4 linked regions of the Homo sapiens genome follow. The protein of the gene in region 2 purifies or fractionates together with the protein of the main gene of each other region. This does not show direct contact. Each region holds a gene or a part of one and is shown on either strand. Other genes may lie near its edges.

The links.
Region 1: the proteins of EXOSC9 (region 2) and DIS3L purify together in Homo sapiens (affinity purification with mass spectrometry; 3 studies listed by BioGRID and IntAct, with this or other methods). This does not show direct contact.
Region 3: the proteins of EXOSC9 (region 2) and C1D purify together in Homo sapiens (affinity purification with mass spectrometry; 3 studies listed by BioGRID and IntAct, with this or other methods). This does not show direct contact.
Region 4: the proteins of EXOSC9 (region 2) and EXOSC10 purify together in Homo sapiens (co-immunoprecipitation; 7 studies listed by BioGRID and IntAct, with this or other methods). This does not show direct contact.

The regions. Positions count from the first base shown.
Region 1 is NC_000015.10:66,331,568-66,334,398, reverse strand, and holds the end of DIS3L (DIS3-like exonuclease 1), read right to left. Parts: exon of another isoform or gene 2,531-2,831; intron 2,525-2,530; coding exon 2,379-2,524; intron 1,664-2,378; coding exon 1,489-1,663; intron 1,396-1,488; coding exon 1,087-1,395; 3' UTR 501-1,086; downstream 1-500. UniProt on the Homo sapiens protein: Catalytic component of the RNA exosome complex which has 3'->5' exoribonuclease activity and participates in a multitude of cellular RNA processing and degradation events.
Region 2 is NC_000004.12:121,795,332-121,804,322, reverse strand, and holds the start of EXOSC9 (exosome complex component RRP45), read right to left. Parts: upstream 3,001-8,991; 5' UTR 2,899-3,000; coding exon 2,833-2,898; intron 2,497-2,832; coding exon 2,402-2,496; intron 1,650-2,401; coding exon 1,530-1,649; intron 1,409-1,529; coding exon 1,306-1,408; intron 1-1,305. UniProt on the Homo sapiens protein: Non-catalytic component of the RNA exosome complex which has 3'->5' exoribonuclease activity and participates in a multitude of cellular RNA processing and degradation events.
Region 3 is NC_000002.12:68,039,504-68,046,897, forward strand, and holds the end of C1D (nuclear nucleic acid-binding protein C1D), read right to left. Parts: intron 6,908-7,394; coding exon 6,841-6,907; intron 6,541-6,840; coding exon 6,485-6,540; intron 3,551-6,484; coding exon 3,386-3,550; 3' UTR 1,627-3,385; downstream 1-1,626. UniProt on the Homo sapiens protein: Plays a role in the recruitment of the RNA exosome complex to pre-rRNA to mediate the 3'-5' end processing of the 5.8S rRNA; this function may include MPHOSPH6.
Region 4 is NC_000001.11:11,095,655-11,105,513, forward strand, and holds the start of EXOSC10 (exosome complex component 10), read right to left. Parts: upstream 4,216-9,859; 5' UTR 4,178-4,215; coding exon 4,067-4,177; exon of another isoform or gene 4,021-4,066; intron 2,503-4,020; coding exon 2,366-2,502; intron 228-2,365; coding exon 104-227; intron 1-103. UniProt on the Homo sapiens protein: Catalytic component of the RNA exosome complex which has 3'->5' exoribonuclease activity and participates in a multitude of cellular RNA processing and degradation events.

The sequences.
Region 1 (2,831 bases), on a different chromosome or scaffold from region 2:
GCTACTGTCCCTGGCCAATTTTTGTATTTTTAGTAGAGATGGGGTTTAATCATCTTGGCCAGGCTGGTCTTGAACTCCTGACCTTGTGATCCACCCGCCTCGGACTCCCAAAGTGCTGGGATTATAGGCGTGAGCCACTGCGCTCGGCCTAGAGTTAATTTTTCTAGTGGGGTGTTTGCTGGCAAAGTAACAAGTTTCCAACAAGGGGAAGGCCAATGCACCTCATCAAAATGGGAGAGTGGGAAGGAAGGCCTGTGACAGAACTTTACCTGTGCATCCTACCACCCGCCCTGTGTCCTAATCCCAGCTAGTACTGGAGACAGCAGGTAAGGGTTGAGTCAAATATGAAATAGGAATTTTTAAGTGGAGAAGTGGACTCAGGACTAAGTCTTATTATCTGAAAGTGACTGAAAATTACCTGACAAATGTCAGAGGGGCCTATGACCCAAACGTAATTACTGGAAAAATAAAACATTTGAAAGAACTGATTGGAGACGAGATAACCAGTAATTTCGGGTTTATTAAACTTATTAGAAAGGGGCCATCTGCAGAGCCACCACTTACTGTCCACTCATTACTGAAAACTCTGTTTCCATAGTGACCTAATTATACTTTATTTAATGCAACTTTAATGAATGAGAGAACTTTTTTTTTTTTTTTTTTTTTTTTTGAGATGGAGTCTCGCTCTGTTGCCCAGGCTGGAATGCAGTGGTGCGATCTCGGCTCACTGCAACCTCCTCTTCCTGGGTTCAGGCAATTCTCCTGCTTCAGCCTCCCAAGTAGCTGGGACTACAGGCGCATGCCACCACGCCGGGCTAATTTTTGTATTTTTAGTAGAGACTGGGTTTCACCGTGTTAGCCAGGATGGTCTCAATCTCCTGACCTCGTGATCCGCCCGCCTCAGCCTCCCAAAGTGCTGGGGTTACAGGCGTGAGCCACCGTGCCCGGCTGAGAACATTTTACATATATGCGAAATAGCTACCCAGTCCTGATCGACTAGAGCACTGAGTGACACACATTAAATGTTAAGTTTGAAAAGACTGTAAAACATTCACATATGACAGCTCTTAGTGAAGTAAGAGCCTCTCATATTCCATAATTGTTTGAAACATCCAGGAGAGCTAGGTCCCGTATCTCCTCTAGAAGTGTGTATAGGCTCCTTCCCTTTGTTTGGCGATATTCTTGATATTCCTCCTGAATGATGTTTACTTTGACTTCTTGGGCAAGCTGAGCTTCTTCCACAGATTTAGTTACTTCTTTCACTAACTCACTCTTCAGCAAGGGGGAACTCTGATGAATAAGTTCTGTATTTGGTATCTTGTATGGTTTGTTACTAATTATTTCAAGTCTGATTGTATCAGAATGGCAACGTGAGGCCTGTATGGATATTCTTACCTAGCATAGAGAAGAAAATACATATTACTAAATCACATTATTTATTCCTTACATTTAAAATATTAATAATACTTAATAGAAACACAGACTTACGGTTACATGGTCAAACAAATGGAACGTAACAGATTCCCCATCTGTTGTAGTAGAGGTAATTTTGTTTTGAAATCGTTGAAGGGATCCTGGTTTCCATTCAGAACAGCTATCTGGGCCACATGAGATGACTAAACCATCTTTATTTTTTAGATAAGCAGCACCTTTAATCCCAAACCTATATTATGACCAGAATATAAATCCAGAGACAATGTATTCTTAGTACACAGATCTTGTATGCTTATCTAGAATACTAGTTTTTCTCCTAGATTAAAAACAAATCACTTTTCCTGTGGTTTACCTCCACGTATTTATTTCACCTTAGCAGATGGAAACAAAGTATTTTGCTGGATAAGAAAGACCCTAAAATGGATATAGAAGTGTGTGTGTATATATATACACACACACACACACACACACACACACACTCCAGTCTTCACTTTTTTTTTTTTTTTTTGAGACAGAGTCTTGCTCTGTCGCCCAGGCTGGAGTGCAGTGGCACGATCTTGGCTCACTGCAACCTCTGCTTCCCGGGTTCAAGTGATTCTCCTGCCTCAGCCTCCCAGGTAGCTGGGATTTCAGGCATGCGTCACCATGCCCGGCTAATTTTTGTACTTTTAGTAGAGACGGGGTTTCACCATGTTGGCCAGGCTGGTCTCGAACTCCTGACCTCAGGTGATCCGCCCACCTTGGCCTCCCAAAGTGCTGGGATTATAGGCGTGAGCCACCCCTGGCCTCCAATCTTCACATTTATATACTGAATTATACATTACATTATGTACATATGATAACTAGTTGCTTAAATATTTTAATAAATTATATCTAATGTACAGTTTGTGTTCTACACTTTTAACTATGATTTCTTATGCACCATTGCATTAGATGTAACATACCTTGGTATAAATAGAAGCACACCATTTGTTCTAATTGAATAAATAACTCCGTCAGATATGCAACGCTCCTCGGTGGCAGGGTCTTTGTCTTTGAAGTACATGCACTGGAAGAGCTCAGTAGACTGCTTCTGAGAATGCTGTGCTGCCTGTAAGAAGCACAACTCCAAAGCATTTTAACACTCCCCTGGCATTCCCCAAAGAAACGAAATTCATATTCATTCAAATGTGAGATTCTGTAAAACTATTAATATAAAAATTGTTCTCTACTATGAAATTAAATTACTTTTTGTGGGAACTTAACCATCTAGTATTATCTCCTCAAAAATGTCTTAGAAAATGAATTATTTTATAAAATGAAACCCATTTATAGTTCATGAAATTAGAGATCAGCAAATTTGGGTCATGTTCACCTTGGGTACAGGAAAAGTATTACACATGTCTTACTTGCATTTC
Region 2 (8,991 bases):
CAAACTCTAGGCCAGGCACAGTGGCTTACACCTGTAATCCCAGCACTTTGGGAGGTCAAGGTGGCAGAACTGCTTTAGCCTAGGAGTTCGAGACCAGCCTGAGCAACACAGCAAGACCCTATCTCTACAAAAAAAAAAAAAAAAAAGTTTTTTAGTTAGCTGGGTGGAGTGGCACGCGCCTATAGTCCTAGCTATTCGGGAGGCTAAGGAGAGAGGATCTCTTGAGCCCAGGAGTTTAAGATTACAGTGAGCTATAATGACACCACTGTACTCCGGCCTGGACGAGAGTGTCACCCTGTCCCTCAGAGAAAATAATGAAAGTTTTCAAAAATTAAAAAAAATTAAACTTTTAGGTTTTGTGATATTTTTAATAACCTTACAAGTAATGCAAATAGGAAGTATTATGCTTAGGTATGGAATATGGGAAGCTAAATGACTTCTCTGGGATGAAAATGCTTGTCAAAATACCCTAATCAAGAATCAAATTCTGGCCAGGCACAGTAGCTCACGCCTGTAATCCCAGCACTTTGGGAGGCCAAGGCAGGTGAATCACTTGAGGTCTGGAGTTCAAGACTAGCCTGCTGGTGAAACCCCATCTCTACTAAAAATACAAAAATTAGCCGGGCGTGGTGGCAGGCGCCGGTAGTTCCAGCTGCTCGGAAAGCTGAGTGGGAGAATCGCTTGAACAGGGGAGGCAGAGGTTGCAGTGAGCTGAGATTGCACCACTGCACTCCAGCCTGGGCAACAGAGTGAGACTCTATCTCAAAAAAATAAAACAAAATAAAATAAAATAAAATTCTAATATCCTAATGCAGCACAATTTATTGGGACTAAGATTTTCAAAGTTATCCCTGCCACTGACATGGTGTGGCCCTGTGTAAATCGATAAACCTATCCAAATGAAGGATTTCATCTGTTCTTGAGTTCTGCATGAAAAAGGAAAACTACCTGCTTCTATGAACTCATGTAGAAAATGAGAGATTATATGAAAAAGCCACAAGTTCTTTGAATAAAATATTTTTACACAAAAATCTAAGTTGCTATTTTCACCCTTTTAAGATAAAGGGTGAAAACCTTTTAGAAACCTTTAAGAAAAAGGGTGTCCTCTGAAGGGACACCCTTTTTGTCCCTTCAGAGAGAGAGAGGTAGCACAAAGTTCTAAGGGTATCACTCAAGAACATCTGAAGTGAAGCAAACCAGTACAATACTGAGTTAACTAAAGTTCTGAGAATAAAAGGATAGATACCGGGATCCATGATCAACAGTATTCATCCTAAGATTAAGAATTATGGGCATATTCCCCACCTTTTCACCAGCAACAACACAGAGAGACTCAGTGTCTATACACTTCGAATTTCTTAGACATCTTTCCATGAGTCGATTCAACTTCACCAAGAGATCTGACTGCCTATAAGGAGAAAATAGGAATGGGCTAATGTCATGAAATATAACACCAGGTATTAAAACAAAAGCTCACTGCTGTTAGGTTCTCCTATGACTAAAGCAACTTAAGAAAAAGATTTAAATACCTGCCAGGTTCGAAAGCTGGAGCGGCCATCTGAGAGAGTTCAAGGTTAAAAAAAAGAATACCTTCTGTTGCCCGATTGAGTTTTGGAGACACAAGTTCACAGGAAACCTGTCCAAGAACTCTGCAAAGATAAAGTTACAAAGTATTAACCAAATAGACTCTCCTTCCAAAACAAAAAACTGAAACAGATAACAAGTTTCAATCTTAATGTGAGTAATATCATACTCAGCCAAATAAATCATAGGAGATAAAAATTATATGTAAAGTATAATATACACAGAAATAAAACATAAATTGGTACAACTAAAAACACGACAGAAAAAACACCTCTCTTCTTATTACAATGTTTACTATTCCACAGATTGTTTTAAAAATCAGTGACCTTTACCTCTAAAGCAAGTATTTATTGATACAAGATGGCATGAAAACCTGAGATTTCTTAAAGGTTTTCACATGGCATAGTTCACCACCATTATGTGACCAAATAGCCTCACAACTTTCAAATGAATATCTGAAAACCTAATTTTCATGTCACTCAGGAAAAAGAAAGCAGGATGTACACTTAATGACAAGATGCTCAAGATCTCTATATTAGTGTGAGAAACAAATTCCATATGATCACTACTAGTTGTCTATACGATTTATAGAAGTCAGAAAAGAACTATGTGATACGTGACAGAAAATACGTTTATGATTAAAAAGTTCAAGTGTGACCACAAAAGCAAAAAATCTCGCATAAAAAAATACTTATTTTTGTCAGCTAAACAAAGAATACTGTCCAGACTTCTTAGCTGCTTTATAAACAACCAAGTCAATAAGGTCTTTTTTCAAACTTCTCCCTTCCGAATGTGTATCTCATTTAAATCCTGTTACCTTGTTTTTCCAAGTTCCACAATGCAGCATCCGTAATCTGTTCCAAATGAGATCCTGATGTTCCTATAATCATAGGTTTGTCTGCCATCCAGCCGCTGTAAGCACAAATTCATTCATTAATTTATTCCTTCAACAAGTATTTCTTAAGCAACTACTTTTTGTCTGGCCCTGGGCTAAGCACTTGGGGGAAAGTGGAATCCTAACCAGCCCGCCCATACAGGAAAGTGGAAACTACAGCATGGACAACTGCTGCGGTGACTGGAGCCTTGAAAAGAACCTGTCGAAAAAAAATAAATAAAGCCTGAGGGATGGGGTGAACGTGCCGGTCGTTCCCCTAGTAGCTCCCCGGGCCCAGGCGGGCCAGGTATCAGTCCACACCTTGAGACCCGAGCGCCCACGCAGCGCGCAATTCTGCGGGCACCAAACCATACCTTCTTCTCTTCGATGGCACGGAGTAGGAAGCGGCGTTCGCAGTTTGAGAGTGGCGTTTCCTTCATGGTGTTGGGTCACCGGCCCCACAGGCACCAGAATCCGCGGGAAAAACGGAACCCGATCTTTCCTTGCGCGCCGCTGCTCGCCCCGAGGCGCAGGAAAATTACGTCATCAAGGCGCGGCGGCGGAAAAATGGGAAATGGCTTGGGCTGCAGCTACTGCGCAGACTCAAAGCGTGATTGGGGAAGGCCAGCGAGCTGCGAGAAGCCATTGCGGCTTTGGGAGGCCGTTTCTGAACGTGAAGTTCCGTTTCTTTTCTCATAAAGTGCAGAGGAGAAAAGGATACTTAAAATAACCATGAGAGTGATAGAAATTATTATCAGTAGACCGCTCGCACACTTCACCCTTTGCTCAGTCCTCTCACGGGGTGGAGACTAGACATGTACTTCTGCAATTTCACAGATGAGTTGACATTGGTCCCTGGAAAGCCGCAGATGCAGGATTTGGAGCAGATTAAATGAACAAACACTGGAATGAGGCGGCATAAGGGTTGGGGGAGAAAGATAAATTGGTGAAATGGGATGTTTTTGTGGCCAAAGGTGAAATCTTGTGGGATCTGAGAAGTTGATGAGAATGGAGAATGTTCGCACGTAGTAACTAACGATGTTACTACTACTGTGGACTGAAAGTAAATGCACCGTTTATTTCTTATCCCCTCTCCAGTTATTTTAAGTCGATAGACTTTTTTTTACGGTCACAGAGAAGCCTTAGCGGGGCCATGCTGCCAACCACTCAGCTTTTTTGGAGAGGCAGTATCAAATAGTAGTTTTAAAAAGTGTTCACTGCCAGGGTTCAAATTTTAAGGCTATCATTAACTACTATAACCCTGGGCAAGTTAACCTGTGTGCTTCACATTACTCACCGGCAAAAAAAAAACAAAAACAAAAACAAAGCAGGGGAAGTGAGAAACCTATTTATTCTGAGGAATAAAAATGAGTTAATATATACATAAAATGTTTAGAACAGTGCCTGGCATGGAATAAGCACTATTTAAGTGTTTGCATATTATTATTTTGTTTCCTTTTGCTTTAGAGGTGGTAGGCACTGTAACTCCTACGCAGTCTTTCTCTGGCTTCTTTGGTAGCTTCTCACAAGTTTTTTCTACCAGTGATACATTTTAGTCTCACTTTGTACCACTTGCAATCCATGTACTCAATAAATACTTGAAGAGGGCCTACTCTGTCCAAGAATAATTTAAGTGCTGGAGAAACAGGGTAGACAAGATCCTTTCAAGGAATTTATATTCTTTTTGGAAAAGGCAAAAAACCCTAAACAAATAGAACAATTTCATACAGTGTTAAGTGCTCTCTGAGAATAGGAATGCTATCTTAATAGGGGTAGTTGCAGGAACAGGTGACTTTGTAGCGGTGACATTAAAGTAAAGTAAATCTTTGGTGTTGAGCAGGAGCACCCTTGATGCCATCTGGAGAGGAAAAGTGTTTCAAGCAGAAAGAGTAACATATGCAAAAACTGAGATGAGATGAGCTCCACATGGTCTGGAGAGAGAAATTGTGAAGAAGGAGGAAAGTGGACAGAAATGATTAATTTTCAAAATCGGCAAGGGGATTACAGGGTACTAACCACTTAAGTTCTTTAGCAACATGAATTCATTTTTATAGTACAGTTTCATACCAGAACTCCTGGTTGATAAGTTCTTCATTTAAATCCTTGAGTTCTTTCAGTGGCCATTTGGTAATTTTTCCCTTCAGCGATGAAATAGACCTTTGTTGAAATAGCCTGTTATTTACTGCAAGGCAGCTTGGTAATGGAAAGAGAATGGACTTTGGCTTCAGATAAAGTTCAGCTCAAATGAACTTGGAGTGAGCTAAATATTCTTTCTGATTTGGGGGTTCTGTATCTTCAGATTGGAAATAACAATTATTCTGTGTTAAGTGGTCTGAATGAAAGCATCTGATGAAACATTTTGGACATGATAGCTATTCAAATGTTAGTTTCCTCCTTTCTTGTTGGGTTGGCAAAGGCTTCCCATGAAACTGCCCAAACTCAGCATGACAGATTGCTTTTCTGAAACTGCTGCTTGATTACTTTGCTTTCCTTCCACTTTTGTTGAATTTCCACTGTTCTTTTCTACTTTCACTTTTATATTCTAATTTAAACACTCTTGCTTTTGTCTTTTTATTTTCGAGTTAATCCAAAGGTGTATGACCCATCTCCACTTACATCTACATACCATCCTAAAATATATGTACTTTACAACCTTGTGTTTATAAGAAATTTTTGAATGCCAAAGGAAAATTTGTTTCATGATTTCAGGGAAAAATAAGTTTGGAAGGTTAAGAAGAGGTTCAGATAATGTGTCAGGTAATGTGATACATTCTATTATTTTTTTTTTCTTTTTTGAGAGAGTCTCACTCTGTCACCCAGGCTGGAGTGCAGTGGCATGATCTTGGCTCACTGCAACCTCCACCTCCCAGGTTAAAGTAATTCTCCTGCCTCAGCCTCCCAAGTAGCTGGGACTACAGGCATGCACCACAACGCCTGGCTAATTTTTGTATTTTTAGTAGAGATGGGGTTTCACCATGTTGGTCCGGCTGGTTTCAAACTCCTGATTTCAGGTGATTCGCCCACCTTGGCCTCCCAAAGTGCTGGGATTACAGGAGTGAGCCACCGCACCTGGCCTCACCTTCTGTTCTTAAAAGAAGAATCAGTTGGAATCAGCATATTAATCTGGATGATCTGTCTAAAAATAACCTAGTTCTCAACAAACTATTTGAGTGTGCATTCTCTTTATTGAACATCAGTTGCTTTGTCTGACCAGCAGCCTTCTATTTCTTGGAGAAATGCCCTTTCCTGACCCCATGCGATTCTAGTGAGCCAATACATTTGAGTTGGTCTTTGTAAAAGTGTGTCCGAAGGAATTCTAGTACATTTCTACTAGAGTATAAAGTCTATGTCTTCTTCACCTTTGTAGCACCCACTGAGACTGGTAGTGTACCTTGTGAATCAAAGGATGAATGGCCTACTTAGCACATCTGGTGAAAGAATTAATGGGTGGAGGCCAGGTGCGGTGGCTCACGCCTGTAATCCCAGCACTTTAGGAGGCCAAAGCAGCCAGATCACTTGAGGTCAGGAGTTTGAGACCAGCCTGGCCAACATGGTGAAACCCCCGTCTCCACTAAAAATACAAAAATTAGCTGGGCATGGTGGCACACACCTGTAATCGCAGCTACTCAGGAGGCTGAGGCTGGAGAATCGCTTGAACCCAAAAGATGGAGGTTGCAGTGAACTGAGATTGTACCACTGCACTCCAGCCTGAACAATAGAGCAAGAATCCATCTCAAAAATAAAAAAAGGCTGGGCACAGTGGCTCATGCCTGTAATCTCAGTACTTTGGGAGGTCAAGGTGGGCAGATCACTTGAGTTCAGGAGTTCGAGACCAGCCTGACCAACATGGTGAAACCCTGTCTCTACTAAAAATACAAAAATTAGCCAGGCATGGTGGCCCACACCTGTAATCCCAGCTACTCGGGAGGCTGAGGCTGGAGAATCACTTGAACCTGGGAGGCAGAGGTTGCAGTGAGCTGAGATTGTGCCACTGCACTCCAGCCTGGATGACAGAGTGAGACTCCATCTCAAAAAAAAGAAAAAAATGGGTGGATGAGTGAACAAATGAAAGCTTACCATTTTATTTACCATATATCTGCTGTACAATTTGTCTGTATAGAATTTGGTGTACCAAAAGTTATCCTGGAAGGGTATAATATGAAATATTAAAAATGGTTATCTCTGAGTGATAGGATTTTGGGAAAAGGTTTTTATTTCATTTTGCTATTTTTTCTTTATGAACTTTCCAAATCTTCTGTAAGGCATGTGAATAGCTTTTATTATCAGAAAAAGTAAAAAGTAAAAAGGTGTTATGTTTTCTTTTTATTGTTTGGCCATACTTAGCTAATTTTTTTATTTAAGGGAATTTTGACTTTCAACTACATTTTAACAAAGACATTTGTTTTGTTTTTTTTCAAGATTCAAACGGGAAACCACTTATCAGTTAATATGTTGAAAAGATTTTATGTATTGACAACTGAATATGTCAAATATAGTGCAGGCCTGGCGCGGTGGCTCACGCCTGTAATCCTAGCACTTTGGGAGGCTGAGGCGAGTGGATCACAAGGTCAGGAGATTGAGACCATCCTGGCTAACATGGTGAAATCCCATCTCTACTAAAAATACGAAAAAAATTAGCCGGGCGTAGTGGCAGGTGCCTGTAGTCCCAGCTACTCAGGATGCTGAGGCAGGAGAATGGCGTGAACCCGGGAGGCGGAGCTTGCAGTGAGCCGAGATCGCGCCACTGCACTCCAGCCTCGGCTACAGAGTGAGACTTCGTCTCAAAAAAAAAAAATGTAGTGCAAATTTCCCTCGCATATGTTTTATGGGAATTATAGATTTTTAAGTCCATTAGATTATCCAGTCCATCTCTAGCTTCCTTGGATATTGAAAAGAGCTTTTCCTTTGACTCTGATTATATCATTTGTTATGTCCAGGAAGCTATATTATTATTATTAAGGCTTTACAATGTATTTAGAGGAATAAAAAATTATCCATTTTCAGCTTATCAAAAATACAACAAATTAGAAGATAATTCAGGGAAGGGACATTTTCATTTCACTTAGATTATGCATATGGCTCTATCTTGGACACATCACTGATGCCCTTGGATTTGTTCTCATCTATTAAAAGAAGATTCATGCTCATCGATAGAAATCTGTAGGAAATTATATTGTTTAATGTCTAAGCAATAAATATGATCTAGAAAAGTTGTCACTTAGTTTTCTACAAATAAAATAAGTGGAATTTGCTATTGTGAATTAAACTAATTGTCATGTAAATAACTTATAGTGTTGTATAGTAAGCAAAACAATGGCCTCTTTTAAAGATTTCCACATTCCAATCTCTGGAAACTGTGAATATGTTGCCTTATATGGCAAAAGTTATTTTGCAGCAGTGATTAAGTTATGGGTTTTCAAATGGGGAGGTTATCCTGGATTAGCTGGGTGAGCCCAAGAAGGAGGCAGGAGAGAGAGACCTGGAAATTTGCATTTTTAACTGGCTCTCTGGTGATGCTGATGCTGCTGGGCAGTGGATCACATTTAAAAGTGGCAAGAGTTTGGATAAAGATGATTTCTGTTCAGTAGACCTTTTGGAATTTATAAATAGGAAGAGTTTAGGATCAGTAATCTGGCCGAAAGGGACTGAAGAACTCAGAAGGCTGCATTTGCTTGGTAATCACACTGCGTTTACTTAGAATGAGAGTTTATTTGGATGGATTGAGGGTGATAGAGGTTATGAGAGAGGAACTAAACAGGCTAGCAAGCTGTGTTTTGTTTTTCTCTCAAAGAGTTTTAACAATATTTGAATCCTTTTGGCAGGGCATATGTTGAAGGCCAAAAGAATGAGGGTCATGATCAACTCAGCATACAACTGAAGGCTATATGAGTAAACAGCAAACTGTTTCTCATGAAAGCAGGATGTTGGCAAACTGACAAACTGCATCTGCCGCCCAGAAGGAATGCTGAGGGGAGTCACAACCCAGGCACAGGTGTTTCTTGTGGTTAGGCACATGTGAAGCCTGTTAGCAATAACGTGAACCTGTGATCAATCAAGCAGCTGACCAATTGTTACCTCCTTCTCCCTGCTCTTTCTACCCGATAAATACGAAGGGCTGCAGAAGCTCAGGGGCTGCTGCCTTTGCTCACTAGAAGCAAGGAGCCCTCTTCTTTTTCCCCTGGTCCCTTCCTTTAAAACAGTTTCTTTTGTTTTAAGTTTTCATTTCTGCATGCGTCCGTTTTCGTTCAGTCTCGTAATGACAGTCTCAAGTAGTGACAGTAGTAAGTCTTGTAATGACAGTCTCAAGTAGTAACAGTAGTAACTGTTGTAGTGACAGTCTCAAATAGTAATGTTTTGTTTTTTGTTTTTTGTTTTTTGTTTTAAGATGGGAGTCTCACTCTGTCACCCAGGCTGGAGTGCAGTGGTGTGATCTCGGCTCACTGCAACCTCCACCTCCTGGCTCAAGCAATTCTCCTGCCTCAGCCTCCCAGGTAGCTGGGACTACAGGCATGTGTCACCAAGCCCAGCTAATT
Region 3 (7,394 bases), on a different chromosome or scaffold from region 2:
AAAAACCAGCATCTCGTTTCAACCTTTTAAGAACAGATGACTAACACAGAGCTGGTGGCTTTAGGTTTCTAGCTGGGCAGGGAGTTGGGAGATATAAAGTTAAAAATTAAACCTCAATTGCCAATAGCTATCACTATAGCTCTCTCTTTTCTGAACACTTTACTAATCTTTCTGGCTGTGTTAAAAATTATGCCATAATCTCAGACTTCTTGAGGGAATAATAAAAAGTTATGCCATAAATAAGCACTTTAAAAAGGCACATCAAGTCAGAGGGTGGCTATTCTAAAGAGTAGTCTATGGCTGTACACCCACTTTGATAGGAAAATGAATATGCAAACCAAAAAACATTCAAATCATTTTCTTGAAAGCCCGCTAACAGGTAATATAATAGCAAATTATTCAAATGAAACAAATCTACAGAATTCCATTATAAAATCCTGTATACTTTCTGCCAACATAGTTGTTAATGACAACTATAAAATGCTAATATATGAACAAAATATGGCTTGTATTTCCAAAACTGGAGAGTTTTAGATCAGAATATAGGGAAAGATAGATGTTTATATTTGTAAATTATGTTCACGTCACATTGATATAAAATACGTTGCTACCAAGATCATTCAGGAAAAGAGCCACTGAATTTATCTGAGCAGGTTTTCTAACTATGCTATGAAGGGAGAAAATGAGACATCAGTGCTTTTTCTTCCCTTTAGATACCAAATTTAGCTATTACATGAGGCTGAGTCACTGTTCACATCTTTCTTAGTTAATGTCACTTTGCAAAGCCAGAATTTCTGGTAACTTATTGAATAAAATTATAATTTAACTGTATGATAAACTGAGTGATTCCTAAAGTATCTTTTTCTCCAGTGACCTACTTAAGAAAAAAGTATTTACATTCAATACGCTGTCCATTTTTGAAGTCTTTCCTACACTTCTGGTCAATTTTAAATACCTTATTTAGAAATAATGCCAATCCATTTCTAATTGCTAAGTAGAAGGATTTTTTAATCTACAGGGTATCTTAAAACTAATCAACCTGACATAACTTCCTAATTCCAGGAATGTAACATAATTCAAGCTTCAATTTTTCACTCAACATATTCTGTTTTACTAAAAGGATTTCCCACCTTACAACTATGAACAAGAAAAAATTTGTACTTAAAATAATATTAAAATGCAAGATCTCATTATTTAGTACAAGATTAATAGACTATAATTCTAATCTTAAAAATATCTATAGATGCAACTTCTCCAACTTGTTAATTCCCAAAGAGATTAATAAAAGATGTAATTAACATCTAAACTTAGAGCAGACTATCATGTGGAACAAACTATTTTAACAAGAACTGCACCATAGTCAAATAGATCAACCACACACATCACCCTTTATGGTTCTGAATAAGGTTAATGAGCACAATTTGTCATAAATTTTCCCATAACTCTGAGAAACTGAATTGAATAAAAAGACTATTTTTTTCTTAACACCTTATAAAGATAGGATAAAGGCCGTAGTTATCGTCTTTGGAACGTTGCACCTAGCACTGTATCTGGCAATATAAATGTCATTAAGTATATTTGTCAAAAGAATAAACAAACAACAAGCAAATAAGCAACCCAATGCACTACAGCCATTCAGCTCCTTATTACGTGCTAAGTATTTAAAATTATACATAATAAAATGGAATATACTCAAACTTTTATTTCTACCTAATAATGAAAGAATTACTCACTTAAAAGTTACACAATTTAACAGAACGTAGAGGTGCACTTTCATAAACCAATAACTTAGCTAAAACCAATAATGATTTTCTGCAATTGTATAACATTTTTCATTTAAGCTGTTTTTCTTTTATGAAATTAGAAAATATACAGAAATCCAAATAAATTTCTTTGCAATAAATAACACAAAGACAGGTACACTACACTTGATCTTAACAGTAACACATTTCTCTCATGAAGAGGTTATTTTTAAAAATAGCTAGAAATTTGGAGACAAAGGCAAAAAAAGGAGTAAAATAACTATAAATGTTCACTAATGTTCTTCCACTTCAAAAACTGACATCAGAGACAGAAAAGACCTTCTGCGTCTATCAGTGACTTCCTCTTCATGTGTCATAGAAAGAGTTCAACATGCTTTACAAAATCCATTACATTTTAAGACCATTTCCAATATCTGCTATCATAAATCAAGAAATCCATTTATTCAAGGTTACTTATGGAGAATTAATCACACAGAAAATTTTAACAACTCCTTTTTCAAAAATTAAAGTACTTTACTATACTTGGCATTCCTACACATAATGATATGGATTCAAACACTGAAAGCATTAAGGGCATATAATTAAAATTCATGGGCTTAGACATTTAAAAAAAGGTTTACTATGTAGTACTCTCTGTAACTAATATTCCAGAAAAATAAACCACAATACAAACACAGTGTAATCTCCTTTGGACTTCTCATCTGCTTAAGTGGCATTAGGTAACTTAAGAAGTTGTTCCAAAACACTTGTATGTACTTGATACAGCCTCAAAAACATGAAATAAAAAAAATCTGAAAAAAAATGAGATGAAAAGAACTGTGGACACCATGCATCAGGAACAAAAACTCAAGAATTTCTCTATTTGTGATGACTTCTAAAACCTATCTTCCTAATTTGGAAGGCAAATTTACTCAAAAGATAAAAATACACAGGTCAGTTATACAACATTTTCAGCCTTTATTGAGAGTACAGTCATCATGCCAAAATTCATCCATCAACATACAACCTTATTTCCCATCTAAAGTTAATGAGAATGTATTTTATTTTAAATGGGACATAGAGGCAACATGCCAAGAATTAAAGTACAACCATAAAGTTTTAGTTTCACACTTTGAATATCAACAAAGCAGTAATTCCTAAAATCATGAAAACATGATAAAGTATCTATACAGAAAAAAATGAACATTTAAGTCATTTCACGCTTTCTTAATATCATATAGTGAAAACAGATGTACCTATAATTTCAGCCTACAGATAGCATACTTCATAAGGTCATTATTCATTTAAAATAGTACAAATGTTTACAAAGAACATTTCACTTAAATTTCACAGCTGCTTATAAAATGGTACTTGCAAGACTGACCTATATAAAGAAATAAGAGTCTCATCAAGAGATGGTAAATTATAAATATATAATATATCACAATGTTAAAATCCTCAGTGCTAATCAATAAAGATAATGATCTTTGGAGAGGAAAGTATTTAGCTTTACATATTTACTGTGAATTTACATATTAATAAGAAACACATTTAAACCTTGCCCTGCCACAGAATTATTTTGCGGGGGGGGGGGGGGGGGGGAAGATGTACTTTTTGAATATGTGTACATCAAAACCAAAAAGTTAACTTTTACTTTTTCCTTTATTGGCAACTTTTGATGCATTTTTCGATTTTGGTTCCCAGAGGGCATTTTTTACAAATCTTGAAGCTGCACCTCTGTCCAGCTTGCCAGCCTTTTTCTTGTCTGTTATTTCCTTGACTCTGTTCATATATACTCTGATTCTTTCCTTAAAGATAAAAAACAAAGGCAATAGATTTACTAAGCTATTCGCCACCACTGAATTTTATTATACTGTACACCTTGGTTAAATTCAACATATATGTATTTATTGCCTATTAAAGTGCATGGTGCTAGGAAATGCAAATGAATAGGATAAATACGCTCCCTGCTTGCCTGGAGTTCATAGTCGGAGGGTGGGGAAAGACAGATGTTAAAAAGTCATTTCAGAAGTCTTCTGTTTCCAAAGAGTTAGAATCACACTAAGACATTACTCCAGAAATAAACATCGAATTGAAAGTTTCTAGGTGGTTATACATTTTTGAAAAACACCATTAACATAAATCTACATATTAACTGTTTTGTATCTAAAGTAAAAAACCGGAGCTTTCATATACTTGCAAAATACAAACTAAATTCTCCTGAAATTTTTCTAAACAGGAAATACATGAGGTAGTACTTAACTATCTTTTCACATTACCATCTAGTGTAACAATTAGGGAGAATGAAAATACAAATTATTCAATTTTATAATTTTGGTAAGTACATGAAATTTTCTAATAAAATATACAGTTCTAATCAGACTTTACAGGGTGAGAAACATAATATGTTGCTGTACCACTGTGAATCTTCTGAGACAATTAATCAGCATAAATGGCTATCTTACGCTTCAAATGAAGAAATAAAGTTGATGACAGCCATAAAACAGCAGAGTAAAAGACTGATCACTGCTTAAAAACAAGCTTTATTAAAATAATCAACATAGTTAATGCAGAATCTTAAAATGTTTTCATTGTGAAAGACTGGCAACTCTGCTCCACACTCTCTAGTGACGTCCCATTTCTGTCTGAATAAAAAAGCACAGTGCTTATGATGGTGGATACTAGCTACAGCACACACACACCAACCTGCCTTGGGGTCTTTGCCCTGCTTATTCCTCTGCCTAGAAGGATATTTCCTCAATTACCCATACGGCCACTTCCTCTCTTCCTTCCAGTCTACTCAAATGTTAACCTTGTCATTGAGGCCCTGACTTCAGCATTTAAAACTGCAGTCCTATCCAAGCACTCCAGTCCCCCTTACCCTACTCTTTTTCTTTGTTCCCATAACTTTCCAACATACTACATATTCATATATATTTCTTATTTGTTTACTTTATTATTTGTCTCCCTCCATTAGATACAGTCTGGTGTCTGCCACAAGGGCAGGGATCAGCATTACTCACAGAGGAATCATCTCTCACTTGGAAATAATGCCTAGCTCCCAGTAAGCACTCAAATATCTGTTGAATGAGTAAACTGACTTTTCCCATTTGTGATACATACGGCAAATAAGTTTCCTATCATACACTAAGTCTGTGATCAATTAGTAACATCTACGCAAGGTCAGAAAAGGGGAACAGGCTCTGTAATCCCAGCACTTCGGGAGGCCGAGGCGGGCAGATCACGAGGTCAGGAGATCGAGACCATCCTGGCTAACATGGTGAAACCCCGTCTCTACTGAAAATACAAAAAATTAGCTGGGCGTGGTGGCAGGCGCCTGTAATTCCAGCTACTCGAGAGGCTGAGGCAGGAGAATGGTGTGAACCCGGGAGGTGGAGCTTGCAGTGAGCCAAGATCACGACACTGCACTCCAGCCTGGGCGACAGAGCAAGACTCCATCTCAAAAAAAGAAAAAAAAAGAAAAAGAAAAGGGGAAGAGGTTTATGCATGCTTTTTATTCACCAACCCTTATCTAGAATATTAATGTACTACTTCAAAAGTAGATTCTGAGGTAGAAAGAAAACAAATGACCTTGTCCTTTCACAAAGACAGTATCAAGTATTCCAAATAACTTCATGTTAATGGAAAAAAGAGAAATTGTATGCAAAGTCTATATTAGGAAGTTGAAAACAGATGATACAAGCCATCATTTTAAAGGTTTAAAGCCGTATCACTGGTCAAACCAAGACCTGCATATCATATTGCTTTATACTTTTGCTTTAAATATTTTTCACAATTGTTTTATTTAAAAATAAATTTATTTTCCCCCCCAAGAACTTCAAAATAAGGAAATGTCTTAGACTACATGTTGAAAAACTGAAGACAACAGATCTGGCTTACTCATTTTTAAAAAGTAAAGGACCAAGTGCTTTACTAAGCTGTAAATAACATACATATCAACTACCCTAAAACTTGAGAACAAGAATACAATGTCAAGTGTATTTCATATCTATATTTGCCTTATATTTTATAAACACAAAGAATCAATTTATTAATATTCTTATTCATAAAACCAAGTCAAGAAGGTAACCATAAGTTTGATTTCTAATTTTTCTCTTCAAATTGAATGATTTGATTTAATTTTTGAAGTCAGCAAAAACTCCAAGATACCAGACCTTATATACTGTACTTATACATCTAAATGGAATACAAAGACAAACCTAGAAGATTTATTACAGGTTGTAAATATGTCTAATGCAGAATTACTGGACAGTACACATACAGCTGGTGCCAAAAAAGCTTTTAGCTTTGTTGCTGAACTGGATTCTTTACTGCTGAGAAAATGAATTAATGGAGGAATTGAAAAGGTGGGAGGGAGAAACTTTCCCGTCTTTGCTAGTAAATCAACTAGAATATACTTTTAAGAACTGTACAGAAGTTTAAAAAAAAAAGTAGTTCTAGAGATAAACAGGATTTCAAGAATTTATAAGAAAAATAATATGTAAGTTATAAATAATTACTAGAATCGTAACATTTTCCCATTCCGAGATTTATATAATATATGGAATACCAATTATCTGAAAAAGGTAAGAGAAAAAAAAACCCAAAGATAATAAGGTCTGGCTCACTTTCATAATTTCAACTCGAATTCTGTTCTCCCTAATTTGTGTGACAAAGGTAGTGTGACAAACCTCAGGAATACAACAACAAACACATAAAATAAAAAGAAATTAAAATCTTACCAATTCCTGTTTTACTGGATGTTCCTTAGGATTAACTCCTTGGGTTGCCAAATAAACTACAAGAGAAAAATTTCATGGAATAAAATGGTGAATGTATTAATTTAAAACATTCCAATTAAAGAAACTAGTTATTCACAAAAAAGGAAAGTCCTACAAACAATTAAACTTTAAATTATTCAATTTCCATGTAATACTAAATCTATGTGTGGCTCACTGGCATCTAGATTTAAAAATAAGTATCTATTAAAAGTGTTATAAAGTATAATTGTAAATAAATTGTTAGCATTTTAAAAATAAATCATCTTTCACACAATAAGTAATTTGCTTTCTAATTAATTCCAAAGTAACACACATACCCCAAAACATTGAATTTAATGTGTATGCAGAAACCAAATCCACTTTTGCTTGTTCAAGTGGATCCAACTGTTAAAAAAGAAAGAGAGAGGGAAAGAGAGAAAGTGAGACAGAAAAAAAATACACAAACTTTGAACACCATCTGATAACATTTGACTTTTACCAAGTACAATGTATCAAAGAAGTTTTTTTCACTTCATATAATCCAATAACCAAATGATCTGAAAATAATTTGTAAAAAGAAGTTTTCTTAATGAGTGACTTTTGTCCACACATTTTCACCTTAGGGTATCATCTTTAGTTAGACAAGGAAAGTGCATAACCCAAGAAAAATTCTTTTGAATTATTTTAATTTCGGGAGTTACGATCTGGGCTTTGTAAGTCAAAAGTAATTTATCAATATAAACATTGTACATGATGCATTTATGTATAAGAAGCAGGCTTAGGCAATACGAAAGACAGAAGAAACATAATGAGATTTGTTTTAGACTGTCAAAGTCAATTTACTGTTTTTGTCCTATAGGGTTTCCAGAAACCCTGATAACATCATTGTAAT
Region 4 (9,859 bases), on a different chromosome or scaffold from region 2:
AGTGAGTCGAGATCGCATCACTGCACTCCAGCCTGGGCGACAGAGCGAGACTCCGTCTCAAAAACAAAACAAAACAAAAAAAAGAGTAAGGGAAAATACTCACCACTCTCTCCAGAATTACATCATTGGCATCAACTAGTAAATCAAACTTGTCTTCCAGCTCAGTCACTTTACTTCGATCCTTAATGTTGCTGCGACACCCATGGTACTGCATTACTCTGCTCATGCTAAGGAAAGGAAAACCAAGGTTAGCTTGTAGATTTTTATTTCACTTGTTTACATTCTGTGAGAGAGAATGTTCAAATGATGTGGCTCAGACTGTTCCCAACACATCTTTTTTTTTTTTTTTGAGACAGTCTTGCTCTGTTGCCCAGGCTGGAGTTCAGTGGCATGATCTTGGCTCTCTGCAACCTCAACCTCCCGGGTTCAAGCGATTCTCGTGTCTCAGCCTCCTGAGTAGCTGGGATTATAGGCACATGCCAACAGGTCTGGTTAATTTTTGTATTTTTAGTAAAGATGAGGTTTTGCCATGTTGGCCAGGCTGCTCTCGAACTCCTGACCCGAAGTGATCTGCCTGCCTCCGACTCCCGGATTCAAGCGATTCTCATGCCTCAGCCTCCTGAGTAGCTGGGATTATGGGCACACGCCACCAGGTCTGGCTAATTTTTGTATTTTTAGTAAAGATGACGTTTCACCACGTTGGCCAGGCTGGTCTCGAACTCTTGACCTGAAGTGATCCACCTGCCTCGGCCTCCCAAAGTTCTGGGATTACAGGTGTGAGCCATGAGCCCAGCCTTTTTCTTTCTTTCTTTCTTTCTTTTTTTTTTTTTTTTTTTTAAAGAGACAGGGTCTTGCTCTGTTACCCAGGCTGGAATGCAGCAGTACAATCACAGCTCCCTGTAGCCTTGAACTCCTGGGCTCAAGTGATACTCCCACCTCAGCCTCCCAAGTAGCTGTGACTTGGGAGTGGTGCACCACCACTCCCAGCTACTTTAAAAATTTTTTGTAGGGATGGAGTCTCCCTACGTTGCCCAGGCTGGTCTTGAACTCCTGGGCTCAAGCGATCCTTCTGCCTTTGCCTCCCAAAGCACTAGGATTACAGGCATGAGCCGCCATGTCTGGCCCCTGATACTTTTTGATGAAACCAATAAAACTTGCACCCTAGCTGGGCGCAGTGGCTCACACCTGTAATCCTAGCACTTCAGGAGTGGTCACGACTTCGAGACCAGCCTGGCCAACATGGTGAAACCCCATCTCTACTAAAAATACAAAAAACTGGCTAGGCGCAGTGGCTTATACCTGTAATCCCAACACTATGGGAGGCTGAGGTGGGTGGATCACAAGGTCAGGAGTTCGAGACCAGCCTGGCCAACATGGTGAAACCTCCTCTACTAAAAATACAAAAATTAGCCGGGAATGGTCGTACATGCCTGTTATCCCAGCTACTGGGGAGGCTGAGGCACAAGAATCGCTTGATCTTGGGAGGTGGAGGTTGCTGCGAGCCGAGATCACGCCACTGCACTTCAGCCTGGGCGACAGAGCAAGACTCCGTACTCCCCCCCAACAAAAAAAAAAAAGCTGGTCGTGGTGGTGTACACCTATAATCCCAGCTACTCGGGAGGCTGAGGCAGGAGAATCGCTTGAACCTGGGAGGCGCAGGTTGCAGTGAGCCGAGATTGAGCCAATGCACTCCAGCCTGGGTGATGGAGCGAGACTCCATCTCAAAAAAAATAAAAATAAAAATAAAAATACCTGCTACTCTACAAGTTGTGGGAAAGAATCTTGGATCTGGCAAGGCGCGGTGGCTCACGCCTGTAATCCCAGCACTTTGGGAGGCCGAGGCAGGTGGATCACGAGGTCAGGAGATCGAGACCATCCTGGCTAACATGTTGAAACCCTGTCTCTACTAAAAATACAAAAAATTAGCTGGGCGTGTTGACGGGCACCTGTAGTCCCAGCTACTCAGGAGGCTGAGGCAGGAGAATAGCGTGAACCTGGGAGGCGGAGCTTGCAGTGAGCCGAGATCATGCCACCGCACTCCAGCCTGGGCAATAGAGCGAGACTCCGTCTCAAAAAAAAAAAAGAATCTTGGCTCTAAGTGTTCACGTCCCATTTAATTAAAAAAGATTTGTACAAAAGTCAATATATTTTTTCAGTACAAAAGTCAATACATTTTTTAAAGGCTAAACTAAAAATATACCAAGTAATATTTCCCTAATCAAAATCCATTGCTTCAATTTTCACATTTTATAGCTCTTCATACCACAGAAAATGTTTAAGGAAAAATAAATTTCAGGAAAAATTTATCTACTTCTTTGTTTTCATTTCTTTTCACTAACACAAGAAAACAAAGTACAGTACTTACCACTGAAGCAACCTGTCTCCCTGTGTTTCGCAAAATGCTTGGAAGCCAGGAAAACTTCGGTAAAAATCATACTCATCGCCAAACTGTGGTAGGCCCCCAGATGCCTTGGTGACTGCCACCACGGACCCAAGAGCAAACTGTCAAAAACAAGAAAAGATGGCATGTTTACACAGGGATCCCCATTCATTTGGTATGTCATTTTTTTGATCTATCGTATACAAGGTATCTACTCTTCATCCATCAAAAAAAGCACTCATTTAGTGCCAAACCCCAATCTAATCTAGGCCCTGAGAATACAATACTGAACAGGAAACCAAGTTTGGAGCTTATATTCTTGGGAGAGTTGAGAGACAGAATACATACGTATATAATCTGATTAATATTCACAAATACCTGGGGTTGAATCTTGACTCTGCTACGTATTAACTGAGATCTTGGACAAGTGATTGCTTTATTTGGACTTTAGTGTTCTCCTCTGAGAAACAGGAAAAATAAAAAGGGCCTGCACCACAGAGTTTTTGTGAGGACAGAATGAATAAGCTAATAAAAGCACTTAGGACAGTTCTTGGCACATAAGCGTTATTATTACGACTCAAGTTCAGATCCAAGAGCTTTCTACAGGAATTTGTTTTTGTGTTTTCATCTGGATGAGCATCTAAAAACAATACAAGCTTATCCTAGATCCTTGGACGACAAATTTATAACAGCTACTATCTAAAACTGGATTTGTGTTTATTGTTCAGTTAGTGTCAAGTGGTTCTCTATTTTAACTGTTGTGAGGTAACGAAAAAAAGCCGTGAAGTGACATAAATGATGGCTGATCATGTGAAGGCCTAAAACGTCATTGTGAGTTTTGTGAATAAACATTTCCCAAGAAAAAAGCAGAGAAAGGAGGTGGGAAATTAAGTCACGGAGGGGAACATGGTAGCTTATGAGCATGACCGCCACACAACCAGGACCACAGTTAGTGGTCCAGGAACTATTGAGAGCCATGTTAATGAATCAATAGCATTAGCTAACAGCAAATTAGATAAGATACAACGTTAGTGGAATTTCTGTAAATTTATAGGGTTAATTTACAAATTATTTTAGTTTCATTGCTTTGTAAGAGCTATGCACACCTTAAGCCTAGTTGTACGTTTGCTCATATTTAAGCTAAGTTATACAAAGATCTTAAGTGAACGCCCTGTATACCTTCCAGGAGTTACTAATAAACGTGCAATGGGGCTTTAACAGGTGACATTTAACTCAGGGTTAAAAATTATGTAGGACTGGACTTCAGAAACAGAGGAAGAGAAGGGCCATACTGGCCGCGGGAGGAGACAACTCCAGGCAAGTGTGGGGAGCGCGAAGAAGCCGAGCCCCTGCGGAGAGCTGGTCGGGTGGCTAGGGCGTGGCGAGCGCGACGTCGCAAGGGCTAGGGACGTCTGGGTGGCAAGGAAGCCTTTCCCAGGATGCGAGACGGCTTTCCACATTTGGGCCTCCATGGACTTAGGCTCGCAAGCGGGACGCCCCTCAGTGTCCGTTTCCGAGGCCCCATCCCCGGAGGGTGCAGGAGAGTCTGCGCCCAGCGCGGACAGGGGCCCCGCGACCCTCGCTCGGGCTCCACTACGGCGGGCGGGCATTGGCTGCCCAGAGGGCCCAGTCGGCTTCCGGCGGCCGCGGGCGACTCCTGGTACCCCCGAGGCCCCGCGAACTCACCTTCACAAAGCTGTCGGCGTCCGGGAAGCCTGGCAGCACCATCTCTCCGTCGGATTTGGTTGCGCTGGTCGCCGACAGGACCCTGGGCTCCCGGGTACTGGGTGGCGCCATTTTTTCAGCCTGCACGGCTCGTCTCGCGAGAGCTTGTCGGCCGAGGAGACGGGACGCGTGCGCACCACGCATGCGCCAGGTCGAAGCGGCGGGCGGGGCGTCTGATTATAGTGTGGGGAGCCTGCGATTGGGGTGGGGCGCCTGCGATTAGGTTGGGAAGCCTGCGTTTAGGGTGGGGCACCTGCGATTAGGTTGGGAAGCCTGCGATTAGGTTGGGAAGCCTGCGATTAGGGTGGCACTTTCGAGCGCTCTGGTGTGAATTTCACGTTCTTTTACCTCATATTGTATCATCCCAACAACCCTGTGATCTAGGGTGCGGCCTGGAGGACCTGACTATCACATATATTTTTGACACGAGGTTTGCCCAATCTGGTTTCGAACTCTTGGGCTCAAGAGATCCTCCCACCTTAGCCTGCGAAGTAGCAGGGACCCCAGGCGAGGGCCACGATCCCCGCTTATCCTCGTGTTTATTTAAAAATTTAAAAAACAAACAAACCGGGATTACCGGGAGTGGTGGTGCGCATCTGTAGTCCCAGCTGCTCGGGAGGCTGAGGTGGGATGGTTGCTTGAGCCGAGGAGGTGGAGGCTCCACTGCACTCCAGCCGGGGTGACAGGATGAAACCCTGTCTCAAAAATTTCTTTTTAAGGTTATGTTTTTGAGGCTGGGCGCCGTGACTCACACCTGTAATCCCAGCACTTTAGGAGGCCGAGGCGGGTGGATCACCTGAGGTCGGGAGTTGGAGACCAGCCTGGCCAACATGGTGAAACTCTGTCTATACTAAAAACACAAAAATTAGTCGGGCGTGGTGGCACATGCCTGTAATCCCAGCTACTCGGGAGGCTGAGGCTTGAGCCCGGGAGGTGGAGGTTACAGTGAGCCGAGATCGAACCACTGCATTCCAGCCTGGGCAACAGAGTGAGACCTTGTCACAAACAAACAAAAAAAACCATGTTTTTGGGACAAAGTTTCACTCTTGCTCTCCCAAAGTGCTGGGATTACAGATACGAGTCATCAGCGTGCAGCCTATTTTTATTTTTATTTTTTTTGAGATGGAGTCTCACTCTGTTGCCCAGGCTGGAGTGCAGTGACGCAATCTTGGCTCACTGCAACCTCCCGCCTCCCGGGTTCAACGAATTCTCTTGCCTCAGCCTCCCGAGTAGCTGGGATTACAGGCGTGCACCACCACGCTCGGCTAATTTTTTTCGTATTTTTAGTAGAAACGGGGTTTCACCATATTGGCCAGGCTGGTCTCGAACTCCTCACCTTGTGATCCTCCCGCCTCGACCTCCCAGAGTGCTGGGATTACAGGCGGAGCCACCGTGCCTGCCCTGTTTATTTTTTTTTTTTGAGACAGAGTCTCACTCTGCTGCCCAGGCTGGAGTGCAGTGGTGCAATCTCAGCTCACTGCAACCTCCGCTTCCTAGGTTCAAGTAGCTGGGATTACAGGCGTGTGCCACAATGCCCGGCTAATTTTTTTTTTTTTTTTGTATTTTTAGTAGAGATGGGGTTTCACCATGTTGGCCAGGCTGGTCTTGAACTCCTGACCTCAAGTGATCCACCTGCTTTGGCCTCCCGAAGTGCTGGGATTACAGGTGTGCGCCACCAGCGCCTGGCTTATTTTTTTTAGACTGCATCTTACCAACCTGGTCTCGAACTCCTGGGCTGAAGCCGTCCTCCCACCTCACTGGGATTACAGGCAGGAACCACTGTGCCCGGCCCAGCCTCATATTTAAAGTCACCTCCTCCCAAGCTCTGGCTGGTTCTGTGTTCCCCTCACCCATTTGGTCTTGACTCCTGTAATTAATTACACCTCCCCTGCCCCCTGGATCTATCTTTTCCCTCTCTATTGGTTCATTCCTAACAGCCTACAAGTACACTGACATCTTTCCCAACTAAAAGAGAAAAGGAAAAAACACTGGCTCCCACATCTCCTTCCAACTGCCATCATCTCTCTCTTGCCCTTTACAGGTAAGCTCCTGAAGAAAGCGTCTAGCTCCAACTGTGCTTCCTCCCTCCAGTACCCTCTGAACTCCTCCAAGCAGACGTTGTTTCCTGCAGACATCGCTGGAACCATTCTGGTTAACACAGAGTGGGAACTCAGTACACATTTGTGAAGTGAACTCCTGGAAGAGCTCTTGTGAGGGAGGCACCGAATTATCAGGCAGCTCAAGAGATAGATTCACTCTCCTGAAATTAGAGATGGGATGCCCTTAATACAATTCATTCCACCCATTAAGTCTTCAATAAATGTTCAGCATATCCAGTTAAGAGAATACTTGCTTTTCACTTTTTCCGTGTGTGTGCTTCAGGTACACAGGTACTCTGGCAGGACAAACGCCTAGTTCATTTAGTATTTTTGAGGACCTATTTCACGTGGTTCAACCTAATACCACATGTCAGTCAGGCTGTGCTAAATGCTCCTCCATGGATTATCTTGTCTTTCAGACAGCCTCACAAGGTAGGGCTTACCCACACTTTCAGAGGAGACAAGCAGAGAGAATCTACGTAACTTATCCAAGGTCACAAAGGTACTATGAGATGCAGTTGATATTTGAAACTTAGTAAGTTGACACTACAGCCTTGATTCTTTTTTTTTTTTTTTTTTGAGATGAAGTCTCACTCTATTGCCCAGGCTGGAGTGCAATGGCATGATCTTGGCTCACTGCAACCTCTGCCTCCCGGGTTCAAGTGATTCTCCTGCCTCAGCCTCCTGAGTAGCTGGGATTACAGGCGTGCACCACCACGCCCAGCTAATTTTGCATTTTTAAGTAAGAGATGGGGTTTCACCATGTGGGCAAGGCTAGTCTCAAACTCCTGACCTCGTGATCCACCCGCCTCGGCCTCCCAAAGTGCTGGGATTATAGGCATAAGCCACCATGCCCGGCCTCAGCCTTGATTCTTAAAAAATACAACTGGCTGGGCGCAGTGGCTCACACATGTAATCTTAGCACTTTGGGAGGCTGAGGTGGGAGGATGGCCTGAGCTCACCAGTTTGAGATCAGCCTGGACAACATGGCAAGAATCAGTCTCTACAGAAAATACAAAAATTAGCCGAGTGTGATGGCATGCACCTGTAGTCCCAGCTACTCAGGAGGCTGAGGTGGGAGGATAACTCGTGCCCGGGAGGTGGAGGTTGCAGTAAGCTGAGATTGCACCACTGCCCCCCAGCCCGGGTGATAGTGCCAGACCTTGTCTCCAAAAAAAAAAAAAAAAAAAAAAAAAAAAGAAAAAAATAGTTAACCTGTTAACAACATCTGGTGATTAGGGGCTCCCATCCCTTTGAGCAGTCGAAAATCCACATATAGCTTTTAACTCCCCCAAAACTTAACTAATAGCCTCCTGTTGACCAAAGGCCTTACCGATAACAAACGGTCAACTGACACATATTGTGTGTATGTATTGTATTCTTACAATAAATTACGAAAATTTTAAGGAAAATATATTTACTATTCATTAAGTGGATCATCATAAAGATCTTCATCCTTGTTTATGTATTTATTTTTAGAGATAGGGTCTCTGTCATCCAGGCTGGAGTGCAGTGGCACAATCATAGCTTACTGTAAGCTTGAACTCCTGGGCTCAAACAATCCTCTGGCCTCAGCATCCAGGGTAGACTGGGCCCATGCCACCATGCCCAACGAATTTTTTTATTTTTTGTAGAGGCAGGGTCTCACTATGTTTCCCAGGCTGGTCTCAAACTCCTAGATTCAAGCAATCCTCTCACCTTAGCTTCTCAAAGTGTTGGGGTTACGGGCATGAGCTGCCGTGCCTGGCTGGACTAAACTGTATTTAAAGGCCTCCACTAGCTCCTCCTCTGCCTTTGATAATTTGTCTCAACACACCCAGAAGGCTTTGCTTAGATATAACTTAAAACCTATCGGATTCACCAAAGACCTTAATCCAGACTCTTATATCCTAAAGAATATATCTTTATCACTGATGGCCACCATTTTCCTGCCTTTATCATTCTCACACCTTTATCGTTCATGAATAGTAACATCACTGTAGTCACTGAGAGTTATTTCATCTGGAGCCAGGAAAGTTATGGTGACCATATTTTCTGGAGCAAATAGGTGATACATGGTTTAGGACTGTAACAGAAAATCCAAGTAGGTATGTGACTTTCTAGCTGTGAGTGTTAGAACTGTTATTAGTATCACCATTGAGATTTAAATTCACCTTTTTTTTTGGAAACAGTCTTGCTCTGTCACCCAGGCTGGAGTGCAGTGGTGCGATCTCGGCTCACTGCAACCTTTGCTGCCCGGTTCAAGTGATTCTCCTGCCTTAGCCTCCTGAGTAGCTGGGATTACAGGCGCCTGCCACCATGCCCGGCCTTTTTTTTTTTGAAACGGAGTCTTGCTGTTGCCCAGGCTGGAGCATAGTGGTGCAATCTTGTCTCACTGCAACCTCCGCCTCCCAGGTTCAGGCAATTCTCCTGCCTCAGCCTCCCCAGTAGCTGGGATTACAGGTGTATGCCACCACACCTGGCTAACTTTTGTATTTTTAGCAGAGACGGGGTTTGGCCACGTTGGCCAGGCTGCTCTCCAACTCCTGACCTCAGGTGATCCACCTGCCTCAGCCTCCCAAAGTGCTGGGATTACAGGTGTGAGCCACTGCACCTGGCCACCAGTTGCCTTTTAAAAACACCACTCAGGGCTGGGCACAGTGGCTTCTCTGGGAGGCTGAGGGGGGCAGATTGCTTGAGTCCAGGAGTTCAAGACCAGCCTGGGAAAGATGGCAAAACCCCATTGTCTACAAAAAATGTTGCGGGAAGTCAGGAACCCTGAATGGAGGGACTGGCTGAAGCCATGACAGAATAACATAAATTGTGAAGATTTCATGGACATTTATTAGTTCCCCAAATTAATACTTTTATAATTTCTTACGCCTGTCTTTACTGCAATCTCTGAACATAAATTATGAAGATTTCATGGACACTTGTCACTTCCCCAATCAATACCCTTGTGATTTCCTATGCCTGTCTTTACTTTAATCTCTTAATCCCGTCATCTTCATAAGCTGATGAGGATGTATGTTGCCTCAGGACCCTGTGATGATTGCATTAACTGCACAAATTGTTTGTAGAGCATGTGTGTTTGAACAATATGAAATCTGGGCACCTTGAAAAAAGAACAGAATAACAGCAATGTTCAGGGAACGAGAGAGATAACCTTAAACTCTGACCGCCGGTGAGCTGGGCACAACAGAGCCATATTTCTCTTCTTTCAAAAGCAAATGGGAGAAATATCGCTAAATTATTTTTCTCAGCAAGGAACATCCCTGAGAAAGAGAATGCATCCCTGAGGGTAGGCCTCTGAAATGGCTGCTTCGGGGGCGGCCGTCTTTTATGGTGAAAGCTGTAGGGATGAAATAAGCCCCAGTCTCCCATAGCACTCCCAGGCTTATTAGGACGAGGAAATTCCCGCCTAATAAATTTTGGTCAGACTGGTTGTCTGCTCTCAAACCCTGTCTCCTGATAAGATGTTATCAATGACAAAGCGTGCCCAAAACTTCGTTAGCAATATTAATTTTGCCCCGGTCCTGTGATCTTGCCCTGCCTCCACTGCCTTGTGATATTCTATTACCTTGTGAAGCACGTGATCTCTGTGACCCACACCCTATTCGTACACTCCCTCCCCTTTTGAAAATCACTAATAAAAACTTGCTGGTTTTATGGCTCA